Linked DNA regions of Homo sapiens: region 2 is linked to region 1. Evidence: fine-mapped expression QTL. A gene starts in region 1. The other region holds a variant in brackets. All regions are shown on one strand. Distances are from middle to middle.

Region 1 (10,717 bases):
GAGGGCTTGGCACCAAAGAGCCCTAACGAAGGGGACTCTCTGACACGTGTCCTTGCTCTGTCCCAGTGAGCCAAGCCCCCCGAGAGGCCCCTGCTCGTCGGGCCCCATCCTCAGCGCAGTACCTGGAAGAAAAGTCTGACCAGCAAAAGAAGGAGGAGGTAGGCATGGGAGAGAGCAGCTGTGCGGAGGTGACAGAGTCCTGGCTGCACCTGGCCACGGCCCCTTAGTTCTCCATCCCCAACCCAGACTGGGACAGCAGCCACATGTCACGTCCCCTTCACACCAGAGCCTGGTGGGGAGACCTTCCAGAGCCCTACCACTGACCATGGGGCCCGGGAAGTGGGGGAGGGCAGTGGGAGCCCTGCCCTGGCCAGGCCAAACCCAGCCTAAGCCGGCAGTTCTGGGCCCAAGTGCTTTTGGGACCTTGGAGTATATTTTGAGCACTTGAGGCCATGTGCAGAGATAGTAGCCCTTGTATCTGGTGCCACATGCCGCAGCCTCTCAGTCTCTTACTCCCCCTGTCTCTTCTTTGTGTCTTTTTCAATAGAAACCCATCGATTTTGTCAGGGCTGTAATTAAAATGGCTCTTTTGAGGCCGGGCACGGTGGTTCATGTCTGTAATCCTAACACTTTGGGAGCCCAAGGCAGGCGGATTGCTTGAGCTCAGGAGTTTGAGACCACCCTGGGCAACACGGTGAAACCCCGTCTGTACTAAAATACAAAAATTTAGCCGGGCATGGTGGCGGGCGCCTGTGATCCCAGCTACTCGGGAGACTGAGGCAGGAGAATCACTTGAACCCAGGAGGTGGAGATTGCAGTGAGCCGAAATCGTGCCACTGTACTCCAGCCTGGGTGACAGAGCGAGACTCCGTCTCAATAAATAAATAAATAAATAAAAATAAAAATAAAAATAAAATATAGTGGCTCTTTTGGCCAGGCATGGTGGTTCACACCTGTAATCCCAGCACTTTGGGAGACCAAAGCAAGAGGATATAAGTGATGGAGTTTGAGACCCAGCCTGAGACCAGTGAAACCCCATCTCTACAAAAAAATTTTTTAAATTAACCAGGTGTGGCCAGGCATGGTGGCTCACGCCTGTAATCCCAGCACTTTGGGAGGCCGAGGAGGGCGGATCACCTGAGGTTGGGAGTTCGACACCAGCCTGACCAACATGATGAAACCTCGTCTCTACTAAAAACACAAAATTAGCCGGGCATGGTGGCGCATACCTGTAATCCCAGCTACTTGGGAGGCTGAGGCAGGAGAATCGCTTGAACCCAGGAGGCAGAGGTTGTGGTGAGCCGAGATTGTGCCATTGCACTCCAGCCTAGGCAACAAGAACAAAACTCTGTCTCAAAAAAATAAATAAATAAAATAAAAATTAACCAGGTGTGGTGTTACACACTTGTAGTCCCAGCTACTTGGGAGGCTGAGGCAGGAGAATTGCTTGCACCCAGAAAGTCAAGGCTGCAGTGAGCCATGATTGCACCACTGCACTCCAGCCTTGGTGACAGAGCAAGACCTTGTCTCTCTCTAAAACAAACAAACAAACAAAAAGGCCGGGCGCTGTGGCTCACGCCTGTAATCCCAGCACCGTGGGAGGCCGAGGCGGGCGGATCACGAGGTCAGGAGATCGAGACCATCCTGGCTAACACGGTGAAACCCCCGTCTCTACTAAAAATACAAAAAATTAGCCGGGCATGGTGGTGGGCGCCTGTAATCCCAGCTCCTTGGGAGGCTGAGGCAGGACAGTGGTGTAAACCCGGGAGGCAGAGCTTGCAGTGAGCCGAGATCGCGCCACTGCACTCCATCCAGCCTGGGCGACAGAGCAAGACTCCGTCTAAAAAAAAAAAAAAAGTTCTTTTCACAGCCTTGTCAGGGTTGTTCTTGGAGTGGGAGAGGGAACAGGGAGTCCTATTCCCTTACCTACCCTTCTTCTGCCCTCTCTCCCAGCTGCTGAATGCCATGGTGGCAAAACTGGGGAACCGGGAGGACCCACTCCCCCAGGACTCCTTTGAAGGCGTGGACGAGGACGAGTGGGTGAGTAGTGAGTGGCCTCACTTCCCGGCAGGCAGCGCGGTCCCTCGCACATGCCACGGTGCATGCCTCCTCCCTTCCCAGGCCCTCCTGACTCCCTCCCACCTCTTGGTGTTTCGCCCCAGGACTAGCCTGCGCCCCCGTCACCTCCACCTCACCTGTGCTGCCACTTCCTAGTGCACACCTCACGGCTCATCCTCAAGCTGGAAGATACCTCTCTGGCCCCGGCACATGTCACCCCTGCACTCCTGCCTTCCCGTGGGCACTTCCACATCCTCTGGGCCTCTGGCAGTTCCCAGGGACTGTTTTCACCTCTGCTGTCTCTGGGGTCAGCTGCTGCTCATCAGCTGCCCGCTAGCATGTGGCCAGGGGTGCAGGGTGGCGGGGGGTCAGCAGCATGTCCCTGGGCAGGCCCTGGGCACCCTGTCTCCCCTGGTCTCACTGCTGACCTGGGCTGGTCCCAGCCTGGATTGGCCTCATCCAGGATCTTTGGTCACCCCACGCTGCCCCATCTTGCCTGCTGTTCCAGTTCTGGTCAAGGGCCTTGGGGGCTGGCCCCCCACCAGGCCTTCTAGAGCAGCACCAGTCTCAGGGCCCTGGGACCAGCTGCCCTACTTCCCAGGTTTGTAGCCAGGAGAAGGGGGCATCACAGAGCTGATGGTCCAATAAGGGGGGTGTGAGCCCCGCAGGGACTGGCCCGCACCTGCCTTGGATGTTTTCAGCAATTAAACTTTTTTAAGCTGGCCACCTCTTGTGCTGCTGTGGTCTCTGGGCTGGCTGGAAAGGGAAGGGGACAGGAATGTGGGTGACAGGGGTCTGGCCCTGGGCTCCCCTTTATCTCAGCCTCACTCTGGTCCCAAGGCCCAATCACCTGCGCACTGCTGGGAGTCATTCGCTCACCATGCAGGTTCCTGGCAGTGCTCTGGATGGCGGGATGCTATAAAGGACAGGAGAGATAAGGTCTTGCAAGGACCTTCAGCTTCTTACAGCCTCCTTATGCAGGGGAACCAGACTGCACACGAGCATATAGAGTGTGAAGACAGCAGTAAAGAAGAGAAACTGGCTGGGCACGGTGGCTCATGCCTATAATACTAGCACTTTGGGAGGCCAAGGTGGGAGGATCGTTTGAGGCCAGGAGTTCAAGACCAGCCTGGCCCACATGGTAAAACGCTGTCTCTACTAAAAATACAAAAAGTAGCCAGGTGTAGTGGTAAGCGCCTGTAATCCAAGCTACTTGGGAAGCTGAGGGAGGAGAATTGCTTGAACCCAGGAGTCAGAGGTTGCAGTGAGTCAAGATCCTGCCATTGCACTCCAGCCTGGGTGACAGAGCAAGACTCAGTCTCAAAAAACAAACAAACAAACAAAAAAACCTGTGGGACAGGAAGCAACTGGGATGCAGCGAGGCAGGGAATTCAGGGCCTGAGAAGGTGACTTTCAGCTAAGAGCCAAGACTTGAAGGCTGATGAGGAGCCAGCCAGGGAGAGAGCCACTTCCGAGGCAAGGAAGTACAATGTGGGCACAGAGAGAGGAATGTGGAGGCCAGGAGGAAGAGGAAGAAGGGCAGCGGTGTAGAGTAGGATTCCAGGTGGCCCAACTTTCATCCCACCATTTGCCGAATGCTGTGCGCCAGATGCTCTTCCAGGCGCTTGACATCTAACAGCAGAGAAGAGAGAGGAAATGCTTGCCCAAAAGGAACTCCCATTCTAGTGGAAGGAAACAGATTCTCAACAATAAACATAAAAATAAAGGGAGGCCAAGGTGGGAGGATTGCTTGAACCCAGGAGTTTGAGGTCAGACTGGGCAACATAGGGGAACCCTTGTCTCTACAAAGAATACAAACATTAGCTGGGCGCGGTGGCTCACGCCTGTAATCCGAGCACTTCGGGAGGCCAAGGCAGGCGGATCACGAGGTCAGGAGCACGAGACCATCCTGGCTAACACGGTGAAACCCCGTCTTTACTAAAAATACAAAAAATTAGCCGGACATGGTGGCCCATGCCTGTAGTCCCAGCTACTCAGGAGGCTGAGGCAAGAGAATCTCTTGAACCCAGGAAGCAGAGGTTGCAGTGAGCCGAGGTCATGCCACTGCACTCCAGGCTGGGCAACAGGGAGACGCTCTCAAAAAGACAAAAAACAAACATTAACCACATGTGTTGGCACATGCCTGTGGTCCCAGCTACTCAGAAAGCTGAGGTGAAAGTATCACTCAAGGCTGGAAGGTCAAGACTGCAGTGAGCCATGATCATGCTACTGTACTGCAGCCTGGGCAACAGAGTGAGACCCTATCTTGAAAAAAAAAAATTTTTTTTTGGCTGGGCACGGTGGCTTACACCTGTAATCCCAGCACTTTCGGAGGCTGAAGTGGGAGGATCACTTGAACCCAGGAGGTGGAGATCGCAGTGAGCCAAGATTGGGCCACTGCTCTCCAGCCTGGGTGACAGAGCAAGACTTCATCTCAAAAAAAAAAAAAAAAGGAAAAATAATTTAAAAATAAAAAACCGGTTGGGCACAGTGTCACATGCCTATAATCCCAGCACTTTGGGAGGCTGTGGCGGGTGGATCATTTGAGACCAGTAGTTCAAGACCAGCCTGGCCAACATGGTGAAACCCTGTCTCTACTAAAAATTCAAAAATTAATGGGGCATGGTGGTCCATGCCTGTAATCCCAGCTACTCAGGAGGCTAAAGCATGAGCATCGCCTGAACCTGGGAGGTGGAGGTTGCAGTGAGGCAGGATTGTGCCACTGGACTCCAGCCTGGGCGACAGGGTGAGACCCTGTCTCAAAATGATAAATAAAATAAATAAGTAAATTATGTGGTATGGTAGAGGGTGATCAGAGTCTTGGAAGAAAAATAGAGACAAGAAGGGAGGATAAGCCAGTCACAAAAGGCTGCACATTGTATGATTCAATTTCTTCTTTTTTTTCATTTTTCATTTTTACCTTTTTTTTTTTTTTTTTTTTTTTTGAGGCAGGGCCTGACTCTGTCACCCAGGCTGGAGTGCAGTGATCACAGCTCACTGCAGCCTGTACCTCCCGGGCTCAAGAGATCCACCACTCAGCCTCCCAAGTAGCTGGGATTACAGGCACCTGCCACCACACCCGGCTAATTTTTGTATTTGTAGAGATGGGGTTTCACCATGTTGCCCAGCCTGGCCTTGAGTTCCTGACCTCAAGCGATCCACCTCGGCCTCCCAAAGTTTTGAGATTGCAGGCATGAGCCACCACGCCTGGCTTGTATGATTCCATTTCTATGAAATGTCCGGAACCTGTGAATCCATAGAGAGAAAAATGAGTGGTTGACAGGGGCTGGGGGAGGGGGCTGGGGAGTGACTAATGGGTGATGAAAACGTTCTGGAACTAATAGTGGTGACAGTGGCACAGCTCTGTGAATAAAAGGCATTGGACTGTGCACTTGAAAATCATGAAATCTACAGTGTATGGATTATATCTCAATAAAGCTGTTACTTTTTTCATTCATGGAGGGCAAGTCACGGCGTTTTAAGGGGTCCAGGTGGGCCTCATTGAGGTGACATTTGAGCAAAGATTTGAAGAAGGGAACGAGCTTCTCAGGCAGGAGGAATGTGGATGAAACCTATTTTGAAGTTTTCTATTTTCTAAAGTATTTTTGAGAATTTAGCATCCTACTCCATATTATGTTCATTGATTTCATATAATGTTGCATTCCCAAATATTTTGGCAAAATCAAGGGCAGAAATCGCCCCACGTCTGACCGATGTGCTTAGCTGCTCCAGCGCACTGGGGTAAGCACGCGGGCAATTGAGACTCCCGGTAACGCCCCTTGCCCTCCCAAGCCCGCCCCCAGTTATCCAGAGCCCGACGCAGGCTCAGTCAAACCCCGCCTCCGACCCCGCCCCGAGCCGCTAAGACGCTCCCGGTGGCCCGCCCTTAGACTGAGGCAATGCGCATGCCCAGCGCCGTATCGCGCACGCGCTCTCTGCGGCTTTCCTTGACCTCTGACCCGCCGACCACGCTTGATCCCCGGCCGCGGGGCCAGGAAGTCGGAGTTTGAGCCCCGGAGGCAGAGCGGCTGCCATGGTGAGCCCCGAGTCGGGCGCTACCGGGGAGGGGAAGCCGAGTCGGGCCGGGGGCCGGGGGCCGGGCGGCGAGCTCCGGGCTGGGCGGCGGGCGCCGTGCGCCCCCTGCGTGCCCGGCGGGAAGCATGGTCTGGGGGCGTTGCACCCGGGGGAATCGAGGCCGGCAGCGGCGGCACCGGCGGCCTCAGGGCCAGGGAAAACCGTCTGCCTGGAAGAGGCCGGGCAAACGTGGTCGCGCTGTGCCTAGCCCGCGTGTGAGCGAGCAGCCGTGGGCAGCGGTGGAGCATGAGTCTGGCTGGTGAGCGCCTCCCCTGCCCTGGAACCTTACAGCGCTGCAGAGTCGATGTTGCTGCCCTGTTGTTATCCCCAGTGGAAAGCTGGCCTTTCCAGGGAAGTGGCTGACCTGGGACTTGAACTAGGCCCCGAGACACCGAGCACGGAGCGTTTGTGTGATATCGTTGGCACGTAGAGCCAGTCAACAGACCTGCGCCACACTGTCAGGTCACCTAGGGTAGCTTTAAAAGTGCAGGTTTGGCTGGGCGCGGTGGCTCACGCCTGTAATCCCAGCACTCTGGGAGGCCGAGGCGGCGGATCACGAGGTCAGGAGTTCGAGACCAGCCTGGCCAACATGATGAAACCCGGTCTCCACCAAAAAATTTAAAAAATTAGCCGGGTGGGGTGGTGCGCGCCTGTAGTCCAAGCTACCCGGGAGGCTGAGGCAGGACAGACGCTTGAACCCGCGAGACAGAGGTTGCAATGAGCCGAGATCCGCCAGTGCACTCTAGCCTGGGCGACAGGGTGAGACTGCGTCTCAAAAAAAAAATTATATATATGTATTATATATACCGTATACATTTATGTATACTACATATTATTATGTTATATATATTTTTATATATCATGTATTTTATATATATATATACACACACACACACATAATATATACATATGTTAGCCAGGCATGGTGGCACACACCTGTAATCCCAGCTGCTTGGGAAGTTGAGGCGCCAGTATCGCTTGAACCCAGGAGGCAGAGGCTGCAGTGAACCAAGATTGTGCCACTGCACTCCAGTCTGGGCGACAGGGCAAAACTCTCTCAAAAAGAAAAAGAGGGGGAAAAAAAAAGTTCAGGTTCTTGAGCTCTATCCCTGGAGGTTCTGCACACGTAAGTTCCCCAAGTGACTCTGTTGCAGCTGGTTCGGGGAGCCACTTCTTAACTAACATAGTAATAAGGATAATGTAACAGCTAACGGCGTACAAGTGCCAGCCCCTGAGCTAAGGCTTTATGTAGAGTCTCTCATTTAGTGTTTATGAAGTCCTGCTGTCATTGTCCTTATTTTACAGATAAGGAACCTGAGCCCCAGACAGTTTTGACTCCACCATAGTCATGCATCCCATGGTGTCAGAGACCTCTTTTGAGCCCAGCTCTGTCCCAAAACTCATGGGGTTTTTTTGGTTTGTTTTTTGAGATAGGATGTCTGTCTGTCGCCCCGGCTAGGATGCAGTGGAGCGATCCTAGCTCACTGCAGCCTTGAACTCCTAGGCTCAAGCCATCCTCCTACCTTAGACCCCCAAGTAGTTGGGCCTACAGGTGAGTGCCAGCACACCTGGCTAATTTTTAAATTTTATGTAGAGGTGGGGTCTTGCTGTGTTGCCCCAGATGGGTCTCCTAGGCTGGAGTACAGTGGTACGATCACAGCTCACTGCAGCCTCAACCTCCTGGGGCTTAGGTGATCCTCCCATTTCATCCTCCCCAGTAGCCTCAGCCTCCCGGGTAGTTGGGACAACAGGCATGCTCCACTATGCCCAGCTAATTTTTTGTATTTTTTGTAGAGATGCAGTTTCGCCATGTTGCCAGGCTGGTCTCAAACTTCTGGGCCCAAGCAGTCCTCCTGCCTCGGACTCCCAAAGTGCTGGGATTATAGGCGTGAGCCACCGCACCCAGCATGACAGTATATTAACAGGAAAAGAAAGTGCTGGCCGGGCACGGTGGCTCACACCTGTAATCCCAGCACTTTGGGGGTCTCAGGCGGGTGGATCACGAGGTCAGGAGATCAAGACCATCCTGGCTAACATGGTGAAACCCCGTCTCTACTAAAAATACAAAAAATTAGCCGGGTGTGGTGGCAGGCACCTGTAGTCCCAGCTACTCAGGAGGCTGAGGCAGGAGAATGGCTTGAACCCGGGAGGCCGAGCTTGCAGTGAGCCGAAGGTCGCGCTACTGCACTCCGGCCTGGGTGACAGAGCAAGACTCCGTCTCAAAAAAAAAAAAAAAAAAAGAAAGTGCTAGGCCGGGTACGGTGGCTCACGCCTGTAATCCCAGCACTTTGGGTGGATTACCTGAGCTCAGGGGTTCGAGACCAGCCTGGGCAACACGGTGAAACCCTCTCTGTACTAAAAATACAAAAAATTAGCCGGGCATGGCAGCGTGTGCCTGTAGTCCCAGCTACTCAGGAGGCTGAGGCAGAAGAATTTCTTGAACCCGGGAGGCAGAGGCTGCAGTGAGCCGAGATCGCACTACTGCACTCCGGCCTGGGCGACAGAGCAAGACTCCATCTCCAAAAAAAAAAGAAAGTGCTGTCGGAAGGTATACATGGGAGAGCCTGGAAAGGGTTTCACCCGGGGGATGGGGAATGATATTAGGTCCTGAGGGATGTTGGGTTTTGACAGGATCAGGGTAGAAGGGAGGATGTTCAAGGTGGAGGAACTCAGAACAGCAAAGGCCCTGAGGAGTACAGAAGTATGAGAGCGGCTCTAGGAGCAGAGGGTGTGGCTGCAGCGTGGAGAGAGGTGAGGTTGAGAAGTTGAGGCCAGACCAGGCGCTGTGAATGCCAAGCTGGGGAGTGGACCAAATCTGCAGGCGGCGGTGGAGAATTGTGTGTTTACTGGGAGATGGCCAGAACCCTCCCGCAGAAGGGTTAGGAGGCGCTTGGAAACCCTGCCTGGGGACATGGAGTTCATGAGACAGCAGATTGGGCAAAGCTGCAACAGCCATATTCATTCAGATGCACCAGGGGCACTTACTGCGCCAGCCACTGGCCAGGTCCCTGATGTTGTGGCACGTGCTACAGTTGTGGTCCTGACCTTTCTCCTGTCTAGTTGTGATGCCCGTATCTATTCTCAGGGGCCCTGGGTGACCAGAGTGTCCTTGAGAGTGAGTCTCAGGCTGTCTGCTTATCTACCCAGAGCCTGGGGCTTGGCCTCAAAGGCGCATTGCACGCGAATCTCAAAGACACAAGTCAGTGTAAGCCCCATTGCTGAGTGCCTCCCACAGCACTGTCTGTGGTCCCAGCTGCTGGGATCTGGTCCTGCCTTGGGCCAGGTTGCTGCCCAACAACGAAGTGCACATGCTGCCCCCACGCATGCCAGGATTGGATCCTGTGCTTCTGACTGCTGCTCTCTGACAGCCGCGTGGCCTGAAGTTGGATGCCAAGTCAGCTGGGTCCTCTCACCTGGGACCCTCAGGCCCAAGTGTCAGTCGGTGGACTATGGGATGTTTGGAGCCTCTGGGAGGGGCCTCAGGCAGTGGTTGTTTTGGTCACCCATGGTAGCCACAGCTGGCAGAGCTCTGCTCCCTGTGAATGAGCTCTGAACTCAGCCTGACCCATGGCAGAAGCTCAGGGGATGTTGGGGTACTGGATAGGTGGATGAGGGGCTTGCCTGCACCGCCTAGTTCTGGACCTGCCGCTGTTTGTCCATGTGGTGTTAATGGGCATTGCCTCCTGAGGGCCTTACTGTCCTCTTGTGAGGAGGGTGTTATTCTCTCCATCTTGCAGTTAAGAAAACTGAGGTAGGCTGGGCACAGTAGCTCACACCTGTAATCCTAGCACTTTGGGAAGCCGAGGAGGGCAGTTCATGCGAACCTAGGAGTTCAAGACCAGCCTGGGCAACATGGCGAAACCCCATCTCTCCAGAAAAGTACATTTAGCCAAATGTGGTGGCGTGTGCTCAGCCTCCAGAAGTTATGAAATTTCCACCTACTTGTGAAATCCTAACCCACTTGTGTTTGTTCATTCCCCTAATGGCCCATATCACATCCCGCCTGTTAAGGAAAGAGCAGGTCCTCGGAGGCTGAGTACAAGTAGCTCCAGCTACTCGGGAGGCTTAAGCAGGAGAATCTCTTGAGGCTGGGAGGCTGAGGCTGCAAGTGAGCCATGATTGCACCACTGCACTCCAGCCTGGACGACAGAGTTAGACTCTGCTTCCAAAAAAAAGGCCAGGTGTGGTGTCTCATGCCTGTAATCCCAGCACTTTGGGAGGCCGAGGCGGGTGGATCACCTGAGGTCAGGAGTTTGAGACCAGCCTGACCAACATGGTGAAACCTCGTCTCTATTAAAAATACAAAATTAGCTAGGCTTGGTTGTGTTCACCTGTAATCCCAGTTACTTGGGAGGGTGAGGCAGGAGGATCGTTTGAACTGGTGAGGTGGAGGTTGCAATGAGCCGAGATTGAACCACTGCACTCTAGCCTGGGTGACAGAGCGAGAGTCAGTCTCAAAAAAATAAATAAAAAATAAAAGACCCAAACCAAAACAAAAAAAGATTCAGAGAGGTTGAGTAATTTGTCCAGGGTCACACAGCTATTGAGAAAGAAAGCTAGGGTTCTGGTCCCAGGTCAACGTGGT
Region 2 (10,717 bases), 24 kb after region 1:
CCCACCACCCTGGGCCCAAGCACCGGGAATCCCTGAGAGGCACCTCCTGGGCTCAGACCCAGCCTCTACTGCCCAGGTTGGCCAGCGGCACCACCCCACAGCCTAGGGTGCAGGTCCTGGGACTACTGCCGCTCCTTCTGAATGCCTGGTTGCCCGACCAGCTCTGTTCCAGATCTGCCTAGAGGCCTCAGTTTGCATCGTGTGCCAGCCACGTGAGCTGGGCACTGCAGCTCCCACCTCCCTGCAGACATACGATGCTGGGCGGATGGAAGGACAAGCGTGCGGGCTTCCCATGAACCGGAAGCCGAGAGGGGCTGCAGCTACATGCTGGTGGACACACTTGGCCATTCTCCCTGTCACCATGACTGGATCAGGGCTAAGTCCCCCTGCCCTGCCCAGGGCCAGTACCTGAGGGCGGGGAGCCTGGAGAGCCAGGTGTGGGGCTGTCATCCACCAGGCCCAGCTCCCTGTGCAGAGCACGGGGCCGGACCACACCCAGCGTCCTCTCCCGCTTCTCTCTTGCCGCCCGGAGCTTGGTGATACTCAGCTTCAGGTCGAGCGGCTCGTCCAGGGAGTGCATGGTGAGGGGGCCGGAGTTGGAGGTGGCAGCAGGCAGTGGGCTCCCAGCTGGTCTTCACGCAGGAACCTGGGGAAGGACAGGAGCTGTGCTGTGGCACTGAGACCCCAGGCTTCTCCTCGGGCTGTACTCATGACAGTCTAACAGGAGCAGGAGCAGGGGGCAGTGTGAGGTTGTCTCCTGGGTAGGGAGACCCTCCGAGCGACCTGGCCGGCAGCTATCATGGGGGGAGAGCCAACAGCCTCCTCAGAGATTCCGCATCTGCTTCCCATGAGTCTCTTGGGGAAGACAAAGCTCACATTCTTCATTTTGCCATGAAACTGAATTTTATTTGCTGACAGAGTCTCGCTCTGTCACTCAGGCTGGAGTGCAAGTGGCACAATCATAGCTCACTGCAGCCTCGACCTCCTAGGCTCAAGCGATCCTCCCACCTCAGCCTCCCTGGTAGCTGGGACTACAGGCAGGCACCGCTCCTGGCTAATTAAAAAAAAAAATTTTCTTTTTTGTAGAGATCGGGTCTCTCCATGTTGCCCAAACTGATCTCGAACTCCTGGCCTCAAGCGATCCTCCTGCCTTGGCCTCCCAAAACGCTGGGACTACATGCCTGAGCCACCACGCTTGGCGAAACTGCGTCTTTTACAGGCATCGCCTCAGATCGCAGAGCTCAGAAGTGGAAAAACTATCAGATTTGCCAAGACCAGCTCGGTCGGGAGACTAATCCGGCGGCGCTAGAGGAATTAAAGACACATACGCAGAAATATAGCGGTGTGGGGTGGGAAATCAGGGGTCTCACAGCCTTCAGAGCTGAGAGCCTTGAACAGAGATTTACCCACGTATTTATTGACAGCAAGCCAGTCATTAGCATAGTTTCTATAGATTATAGACTAACTGAAAGTATTCCTTATGGGAAATAAAGGGATGGGTCTGGCTAGTTATCTGCAGCAGGAGCGTGTCCTTAAGGCACAGATCACTCATGCCATTGTTTGTGGTTCAAGAACGCCTGTGGCCGGGCGCAGTAACTCACACCTGTAATCCCAGCACTTTGGGAGGCCAAGGCGGGGAGATCACGAGGTCAGGAGATAGAGACCATCCTGGCTAACACGCTGAAACCCCAACTCTATTAAATAACAAAAAAAAAAATTAGCCAGGTGTGGTGGCGGGCGCCTGTAGTCCCAGCTACTCGGGAGGCTGAGGCAGGAGAATGGTGTGAACCCGGGACGCAGAGCTTGCAGTGAGCCGAGATCGCACCACTGCACTCCAGCCTGGGCGACAGAGCAAGACTCCGTCTCAAAAACAAACAAACAAACAAAAAGCCAAACGCTTTTAAGCAGTTTTTCCGCCCTGGGTGGGCCAGGTGTTCCTTGCCCTCATTCTGGTAAACCTACAACCTTCCAGCGTGGGCGTCATGGCCATCATGAACATGTCACAGCGCTGCAGAGATTTTATTTATGGCCAGTTTTGGGGCTAGTTTACAGCCAGATTTTGGGGGGCCTGTTCCCAACAAGATTCAAGGCCTGAAGCCAGATCTCCCGGGAACTGGCTAGCCGTGTCCTAACAGCCTTTTCTGACAGAGCAGGAGCCATGCTCCGGACTCCCGCCCTGTTTGACCCCAAAGATCTAGAACCAGGCCAGGGGGCAAGGAGCATCCTCTGAAATGGCCGGCAGGTAGCCACGCTCACCACCAAGGAACTCGCACCAGGCAAACCGAGAAAGTGGGCACAGCCAGGGGCCCCACCGCCCTCCCTGCAGAGGCCTAGAGGAGAGGCATCGCAAGCCAGGGAGCCCCAGGGCGCTGGGTCGCCACCAGGGGGCAGCTGGGGATTGTGGCCTGGCCTGGCCAGCTGGGGCAGGGTTGGTGGAGTTGACCAGCTGTATCTGGCGGTTAATATATAAATATGTAGAAATTATTTTTTACTGGAGATGGTATTCTTTTAGTATCACTTCCCATGCTGTAATTTTCATCATTTTTCTTAGAATTTCTCACTGGTTTAATTTTCATTTTCTTTTTGGAAATGGAGTCTCTCAGTCACCCAGGCTGGAGTGCAGTGGTGTGATCTGGGCTCACTGCAACCTCTGCCTCCCGAGTTCAAGCGATTGTCCTGCCTCAGCCTCCCAAGTAGCTGGGATTACAGGTGTACACCATCACACCCAGCTAATTTTTCTATTTTTAGTAGCGACAGCGTTTCACCATGTTGGCCAGGCTGGTCTCAAACTCCTGACCTCAGGTGATCTGCCCACCTCGGCCTCCCAAAGTGCTGTGATTACAGGTGTGAGCCACCTCGCCCCACCTGGTGTAATTTTCCTCACATGCAAATGATCTAACAGTATCCACCGACCCAAGAACAAGGTCAACACTTCATTCTAAACCCAAACTTCACATTCAGAGCAGCAATCTTTTCCTACGCGGTTAAACACGACATTTCCTTGCGTTTGTTCATTGGGATTATTACAACTTGAAAATCTAACTGCCGCACAATCACGCTGTGAGATCCCGTCTTTCGCGGTATTGGGGTCTTTACTCAATACCAAAGGGCGGCCATGGTGGACATAACTACTACATGGTGAAATACTTTGGATATGCCCCCGTGTGTTTCCCTGGGGGCTAGCATAGCCTGTGAGTGGGGAGAGATGCTGTCCACAGGGCAGGACAGGAAGGCAGCTCCCACGTCCTCCCCTTCTGCCCTGACTCTCCAAGCAAGTAGGGCATAAAATGGTCCCCCCTTCACTGGAGATCCTCTGCTTCTAGGGACACATCCCCAGACCCCACCCCAACATGGCTGACACGGGGGTCTCAGCACAGGGGGGCTGCCCACCTCTCCCAAGGCTGCATCATCAGAGCCAGGGCAGCTGCACTAGGCCGTGGGACCTAGGTCTGCGATTCGCCCCTGTTGGAGCTGTCAGATTGTTTGAATTTGCCTCCCAGGCCATGCATGGGCCAGGGGCTCCCAGAGATGCGGTGGGGTAGGGACCACACCCCCGCTAGCAGGTGGGTGGGTGACAGTGATGGATGGACCAGGGTCCCCTCCACTGTTTCTCTGGCTGGACAGGGAGTTGCCCTCTGCCTGAACCCCTGCCAGTTCCATCTGTCTATCTGTGTGTCTATCGTCCTGCTACCTGTTTATTTTTAGACACAGGCGCAATCCAGCCTCCCCGAAGCTCCTCTGTGCTGGAAGCCTGGACGGGGAGGAAGGAAGTAAATATTTATGCTGATGAAGAATTCAGGAGCCAGGAAGGGCTGGTGGCCTGGTCCCTTGGCTGGCCTGGGGCCACAGGCCTCCCCACAGCCTCTGTCCTCACCCCCACCCCCACCCTTCCGGAGAAGGGGACCACAAGGGCAGGATGGTTTGGGAACTGGGAATTCCAGCTGACGGGGACACTCACTGGCAGCGCTGCCCAAGCAACATCCTTTGGCACCTGCCCCACTGCCTTCCCAGGACAGATGGGGACTCGGGGAGCCAGGGGCCCTGAGTCACCTTGTTCTTAGGGCCTGCAGGGGACACTTCCCCAGGAGGAGCCTGTCTCCCCAGGTGGGGCCAGCCACACGGCCCAAAGCCAGAGGGAGGACTCCAATGCACCCCCTTCATCAGCAGGTCCAGTCCCCAGGGGCACCCCCACACACTTCCTGCCACTGGGTCCTGCCAGGGAGGCAGGGGTTCATTCCAATGCAGGCCAGAGCCCGGCACACGGCCTGCGTCCCTGCCCCCGGGAAAGGAAGGAGCTGCCCCCAGCCCTACACCTCCCAGCATCCCTGTTCCAGGCCCTCCCCACCCAGAGTTTTTCCTCCAATGGAGGCCCCACCCCAGAGGGGAGACGGTCAGTGACCCTGCTTCAGTTCTGACCTTGGCCAGGCTTAAAGCCTCCCCTTCCACCCCCGCCCCGACCGGCAGCAGCCAGTTCTGGGCTCTGCTCTGTGCTTTTGTTCCCGGCTGGGTGAAGGGGGCAGGCGAGAGCTAGGTTCCTGCTCTCCTGAAAGCCTCGGAGGCCCAGAGCGGGGAGCAGCGGGCCTGCAACCAGGGAACCCTGAGTGAGTGCCCATGAGCGGGTGGCCGTGGCTCTCCCCAGCGTAAGGCCGACAGCCTGGCTCTGGACAAGCTCAGCCAGAGGCCTGGGTGCTAATTACTGCGGGGTCCCGAGGGCAGGAGCCGGCTCTCGGTCAGGTGGGGGCACCCCGTGGATGCTCCCCGGGCGCAGCGCAAGGCCCGCCGGCCCCACGCCCCTCTGCGCCTCCTGGTGGAGCCTTCCGTTCCTCAGTTTCCCCCCGGTGGGACAGCGCAGCGTGGAGGGTGCACAGAGCCCAGGGCCGCGTCTCTCGAGCACTCAGCCTGGGATGCGCCCAGGGCAGCGCCCCCACACGCAAGGGCCCAGGGGTTGGGGCGAGGGCTGGGGTTGTCGGTGGGGGGTGGGGGTGGCCGCGGAACCGGCCGCTGCGCGGCTCCTCCAGCTGCAAAAGGAACTAATTAGAGCGGGGCGAGCGGGAGGAAGCGGCTGCGGCGAGGGAGGAAGCGCGCGGGGGCGGCCGCGGGGACCACCGGGACGGCGGGGGCTTCGGGGGACCGGGCCCTGCCCTTCCCACCCACCGCAGGGCGGGGGTCACCCGGAGGGTGGGCTGGGCGGGCCCCCCGCCACCCTGGCCGAGACAATGGCTGCTATTGTGTGCCCGACCGCAGCCCGAGCAGACGGCCCCCAGCTGCAGCGCTGGCGGAGCCACCCGGCCCCCCGCCCGCAGTCCCCGGCCAGGCCAGGTAGCCAAGGATCCCGCCCTGGCAGGCGGGGCCGGCCACTGTCCCCACCCTCCCTACTGGAAGGCACGGGGCGACCCAGCACACTCAGGGAAACTAAGGCCCGGAAAAGACAGTCTCTTCCAGGGCCCCTTGGCCTGGGGTGGGTCATACACCAGAGGGGGTAAAGGACCATTAGGTACTGACCACGTGTCAGGCCCATCTGTCCATGGATTCAATGACCCCTCTACAACCCTGCCTGGCAGTAGCTGCTGTCATTTTCCCGATCTCACAGATGGGGAAACTGAGGCTTGAGATCACTAGGCTAATAGGGAGCTGGTTGGAGTCCTGCTCTGAATAAAGCTCCTTCTAGGCCAGGCGCGGTGGCTGACGCCTGTAAGCCCAGCACATTGGGAGGCCGAGGCAGGAGAATCCCTTGAGTGCAGGAGTTCTACACCAGCCTGGGCAACATGGAAAAATCCCGTTTGAAGTAAAAAAATCAGCCGGTGGCCGGGCACGGTGGCTCATGCCTGTAATCCCAGCACTTTGGGAGGCCGAGGGCGGACCACCTGAGGTCAGGAGTTCCAGACCAGCCTGGCCAACATGGCGAAACGCTCTCTCTACTAAAAATACGAAAATTAGCCGGGCGTGGTGGCAGGTGTCTGTAATTCCAGCTACCCGGGAGGCTGAGGCAGGAGAATCGCTTGAACCAGGGAGGCAGAAGTTGCAGTGAGCTGAGATCGCGCCACTGCACTCCAGCCTGGGCGACGGAGTGAGACTCCATCTCGGAAAAAAAAAAAAAAAAAAAAATAGCTGGGCGTGGAAGCAGGGACCTGTGGTCCCAGCTACTCGGGAGGCTGAGGTGGGAGGATCGCCTGAGCCTGGGGAGTTTGAGGCTGCAGTAAGCCGAGATCACACCACTGCACTCCGGCCTGTCTCAAAAAACAACAAAAAAAGCTCCTCCTTTCCTGCTTGGGGGAGGGTGGCTGGCAGGCCCTAAGCCTGTGGAGGTGCAGGGTGCACTGGGGGGCTGTGTGCACCCACCCTGAGAACCACTTGGTCTCTTTGCAGAAGGAAGCGGGTCCTCTGTAAGATGGGGCTGCATCCCTGCCCCGCTCCCAGCAGCATGGGGTCAGGTGAGTGACCAGCGTGGCAGTGTTGTCAAGGGCAATGTGAGGAACACCCCTTGCCTTGGAGTGTCCTGCGAGTGCGCTTTTGGTCAGCAGTGGCCATTTAGCTGAGAACTTGGAGACAAGGCCTCAAGATGCATCTCTCAGAAGTCTATGTGGTCACCTTTGTTTTTTTTGTTTGTTTCTTTTTTGAGATGGAGTCTCACTCTGTCACCCAGGCTGGAGTGCAGTGGCACGATCTCAGCTCACTGCAAGCTC[C/T]GCCTCCCAGGTTCACAGCATTCTCCTGCCTCAGCCTCCTGAGTTGCTGGGACTACAGGCGCCCACCACCACACCCGGCTAATTTTTTTGTGTGTATTTTTTTAGTAGAGATAGGGTTTCACCGTGTTAGCCAGGATGGTCTCGATATCCTGACCTCGTGATCCGCCCACCTCGGCCTCCCAAAGTGCTGGGATTACAGGCGTGAGCCACCAAGTCTGGCCTTTTTTTTTTTTTTTTTTTTTTTTTTTAAGACACAGAGTCTTGCTCTGTCTCCCAGGCTGGACTGCAGTGGCGTGGTCATGGCTAACTGCCGCCGAGGCTCAAGAGATCCTCCTGCCTCAGCCTGCAGAGCAGCTAGGACCACAGGTGCACCACCACCACACCCAGCTCATTTTTAAATTTTTTATTTTGCAGAGATGGGGGGGTCTCCCTGTGTCATCCAGGCTGGTCTCGATCTCCTGGACTCAAGCCATCCTCCTGTCTCTGCCTCCCAAAGTGCTAGGATTACAGGCAGGAGCCACCACGCCCAGCCCGTCATCTTCTAATTTAACAGAAAGAGGAAGTGAGTCCCTGGTCACTCCTGAACCAGTCAGAGAAACCCTGGTCTGTGGGTGTCCCTGAGTCTATTACTGGAACCATCACTTCAGCAGTATGGTCTTACAGATGGGGAAACTGAGGGCTGAAGGGGGAGGCATCCAGCCCAGGCTGCACAAGTAGGTGGCAAACCCACAACCAGAAGCCACGGGCAAGCAGCATGAGGACAGTACCCATAGCCAGGTGCGGGTACTGTGAAGGCAGGTGCTGTTTCATCCCCATTTTACAGATGCAAAAACTGAGGCTCAGGGGAGTGAAGTGACCCATCCAAGGTCCCACAGCTTGTCCGTGGCAGAGCTGGGTTTCAACCCCAGGTAAGTCCAGAAGCCATGTTCACTATTGGCCCTTCCTATGTCAGGGGCTCAGGCTTGGTACCCCCTCCCCGCCCAGGGACTTGTGGGGCTAGGAGGGATAGCAGAGCAGGCAGTGGGTGGGCGCTGGAGGGGCTGGCTGGGGTGGGGGGCCCACCAGGAGGCTTGGAGAGCCGAGGGCAGATCTGCTGCCAAAGCAAACGGCCCCACAGCCCCAGATTCCTGGGAACCAGCTGCGGCTCCCTGCTCTGGCCAAGAGCTCCACCCTCCTTGGCCGCCCAGCAGCAGGGGCTGGCGGGCAGGGGCAGGGCCTGCTGGGGGCCCCAGGCAGGAGGGCTCGTCCTCTCAGGGCCCCCCTTCCTGACCAGGCAACAGAACCGGACTCGAAATCTGGGGCCCCACCCGGCTCTGCTACTCCCTTTGCGTGTCTCTTCAGTCTGCGCCTCATCCCCCTCATCCCAAATGGGATTATATAGGACCCCCATGTTGGGTTTCAGGGAGAAACCAATGCAGTGCTGCACATCCAATCACTATTGAGTGCTTCTCCTTCGTCCGTAACGTTCAGCACGGAGAACAGTGCCTGGCACATAGTAGGTGCTTAATAAAACGTGCTGAATGAATCGTCGCCAGTGTGCATGAGTCCATAGCCTTTGGCCCATCTACCGCTGTGAGGGCAGCTGAGTGGGGACTGGCCATCCCCTCTATGCCACTGCAGTCTCACCCTGAACCAGGAGAACCTGGGCTCTGCCACCTGCCAGCCAGCGTGCACCCTAAACAAGCCTATGCCCCTCAAAGAACCTCAGGCCTCTTCAATCCTGGGGAGTGACCACAGCTGGCCCTAACCACCTTCCAGAGCCCAACTGCATCAAAGAAAGAGCACTACAAGGCCCCGGGAAGGCCTGATCAACCCTGGAAGGAGCTGGCCGCAGACAGGCCTCCTCCCAGGACTGGAGGGGGAGGAGCTTATCCTGAGGCCTGGCCCAGCAGATCCCAGGAGAGGGGCCAGGGCAGGCGGCACTTCCTGGAAGAGTGGGGGATTCACCGTCCCTGGGAACCTTTGGCTCAGTAGGCAGCCCCTCCCCCTCCCAAGACGGGGCACTCAGCCAGCACCCCCGGACCTTTTGGGAGGGCAGACCCCCTCCCGGGGTGGGAACACAAGGGGTCCGAGGTGACCCAGCCAGGGCTGACCTCTGCCCTCTGCCGTGGGGTCCTCGGGAAAGCACCTGAAGATGGGATGTGCCAGGGATCTTTTTTCTGCGTGTTCACAGAGTGTGCCCCAGGGCCAGGCTGCCTGGTTACAGCCCCCTGTGCCACCCCTGGCTGTGGGAACTCAGAAAGGCCCTGCTGTCTCTGAGCCTTGGTTTCCTTGTAGGTAACAGACACCACGGCAATGGTCCCTGGGACTCAGGGCATCTTGCAAGGGAGGGCCTTGTCCTCATGCCTGCCATAAAGAAGCTGCCAGCTACTGGTAACCTAAAGGATTCTTGTTTCCGGCCCCAGGCTGGGGGTTCCCTGCACAGCAACTTGGGCCTGCCAAGGTCACCCAGATAATTCAGGCAGAGCTGAAGCTGGAAGACGGGCCGGAGGGCTTCCCTGGCCTGCACCAGCCCGGGCTTCCTAGGAGATGCCCCACCAGAGGCACTTCCTTCTCCAACGCCAGCAGGGAGGGTGACACCGGGCTCCGGGAGCCCCGGCACACACACGCACACTCACACAGATGGCCATGGCAGTCCAGCTGCAGGGCCGGCCTGGCACAGAGGCCTCCCCATCCTGGTGGCTCCGGGCCCCTGCTGCAGTGGCCTCCACCCCCCCGCTGCCTGCCCGCTGCTGCACCTTTGCACAACTATGTCTGGTATTTTCCTGTCTGCCCAGCTTTGGGGGGGTGCTTGGAGCTATGATCACCGCCTGCACCTGGGCCCCAGCCAGAGGAAAGCCCGCCCCGCAGCCCCCACACCTGCCCACCCACCCGGGCTGGGAGGGGAGGGGACCAGAGCACTGGGCCCTGCCACCCAAATCCCTGGGAGGGGCTGGCACCAGGGAGCGAGACAGGGATGCACGCCCAGCAAGGCTGGGGCACAGACAGCCCAGGCCCTGCCAGGCGGCACTGCCATTCTCAGCAGACCCAGCCAGAGCTATCTGAGGCCAGCAAAGGGATGGGCCAGTGTAGCACAGGACATGAGCAGGCACCCACAGCACCCCCGGATGTACAGACACCTGTGCACAAATGTGGCACACACAGGACATCACAGTAACCCCTTGCCCCAGTGTCGGGGCCAGGACTCAGGAGCCTTGGCTTCTGGGGGAGAGCAGGGATGAGGCCGGGTCCCCAGAGCGAAGGAAACACCGCGCCTCCCAAGCCACGCCTGGCTGCAGGCAGATCCCACAAGGAGCTCCTAAGTCCTGGGGGGTCGGGGCAGGCCCGTGGCCCACGCCTCCCCTGCCTGGGGCCAGGTACCAGGTCCACTGGGAACGGCACCCGCCAACTCCGAGAGCAGGAGTGGGTAAGGCGGGCGGTGGACCTTGGCCTGCCCTCCTGCCTCGGTTCTCCAACCACGCATTCATGCATTCCAACGCCAGGCCCTGCTAGATCGAACCGGACCTTGAGGGTGCCCCGACCAAGGTGGGGTGGGAGAAACAGTGTAGGGGGGGGGCTGCTCCTGCAGGGGGTTGGGCACAGATCCGGGTCAGCCTCATGGATATGGGGTGAAGAGCCTTGGGGAGGTGGGAGCCCTGCGGGTCGGCGCCCGGTCAGCATGCCTGCTGCACACAGTCCATCACCCTGATGACCCCGCGAATGGATGCCATTTTCCCCATTTTCCATGTGGGGAAACCTGCCACTGTCACAGCCAGCAAGGGGCACAGCTGGGTTCGCCAGCAGACCCCAAAGCCCAGTGCCACAGAGGACCAGAGGCTATGGCCCGGCTGATCTGCAGTGACCCTACCAGTCATGGAGTAGACGAGGAGGCAGGAGAGAAAGAGGCCCCTCAGAGAGGCTGGGACAGAACCTAGAGGGCACTGGGGAGCCACAGAGGGCTCTACACAGAAGAGTGCCACCTGCTCTCTCAGCCCAGAGCCTCCTGCCCCAGGCCCTCTCCTTTGGCACCCCCCTTCCTCAGGATCCCCTGCCCC

What was found. PIP is the estimated chance that this variant, and not a neighbour inherited with it, causes the effect.
Region 2: its variant is fine-mapped to the expression of PAM16 in whole blood (INTERVAL, PIP 0.98).

The regions. Positions count from the first base shown.
Region 1 is chr16:4,346,609-4,357,325 of GRCh38, reverse strand. PAM16 (presequence translocase associated motor 16) reads left to right here and starts at 6,005. Exons shown (of 5, transcript NM_016069.11): 1 at 6,005-6,094. The coding sequence starts at 6,092. It overlaps CORO7-PAM16 (CORO7-PAM16 readthrough), which reads left to right. Exons shown (of 31, transcript NM_001201479.2): 26 at 67-158; 27 at 1,954-2,040. It overlaps CORO7 (coronin 7), which reads left to right. Exons shown (of 28, transcript NM_024535.5): 26 at 67-158; 27 at 1,954-2,040; 28 at 2,163-2,784. The coding sequence ends at 2,168. RefSeq lists an enhancer at 9,477-9,977.
Region 2 is chr16:4,322,144-4,332,860 of GRCh38, reverse strand. GLIS2 (GLIS family zinc finger 2) reads right to left here. Exons shown (of 7, transcript NM_032575.3): 2 at 409-646. The coding sequence starts at 580. It overlaps GLIS2-AS1 (GLIS2 antisense RNA 1), which reads left to right and starts at 4,521. Exons shown (of 4, transcript NR_110901.1): 1 at 4,521-4,601; 2 at 6,367-6,431; 3 at 7,507-7,591; 4 at 8,086-8,213. RefSeq lists enhancers at 3,293-4,293, 7,327-8,111, 9,683-10,468. The variant C/T (reference allele first, on the strand shown) is at 6,684.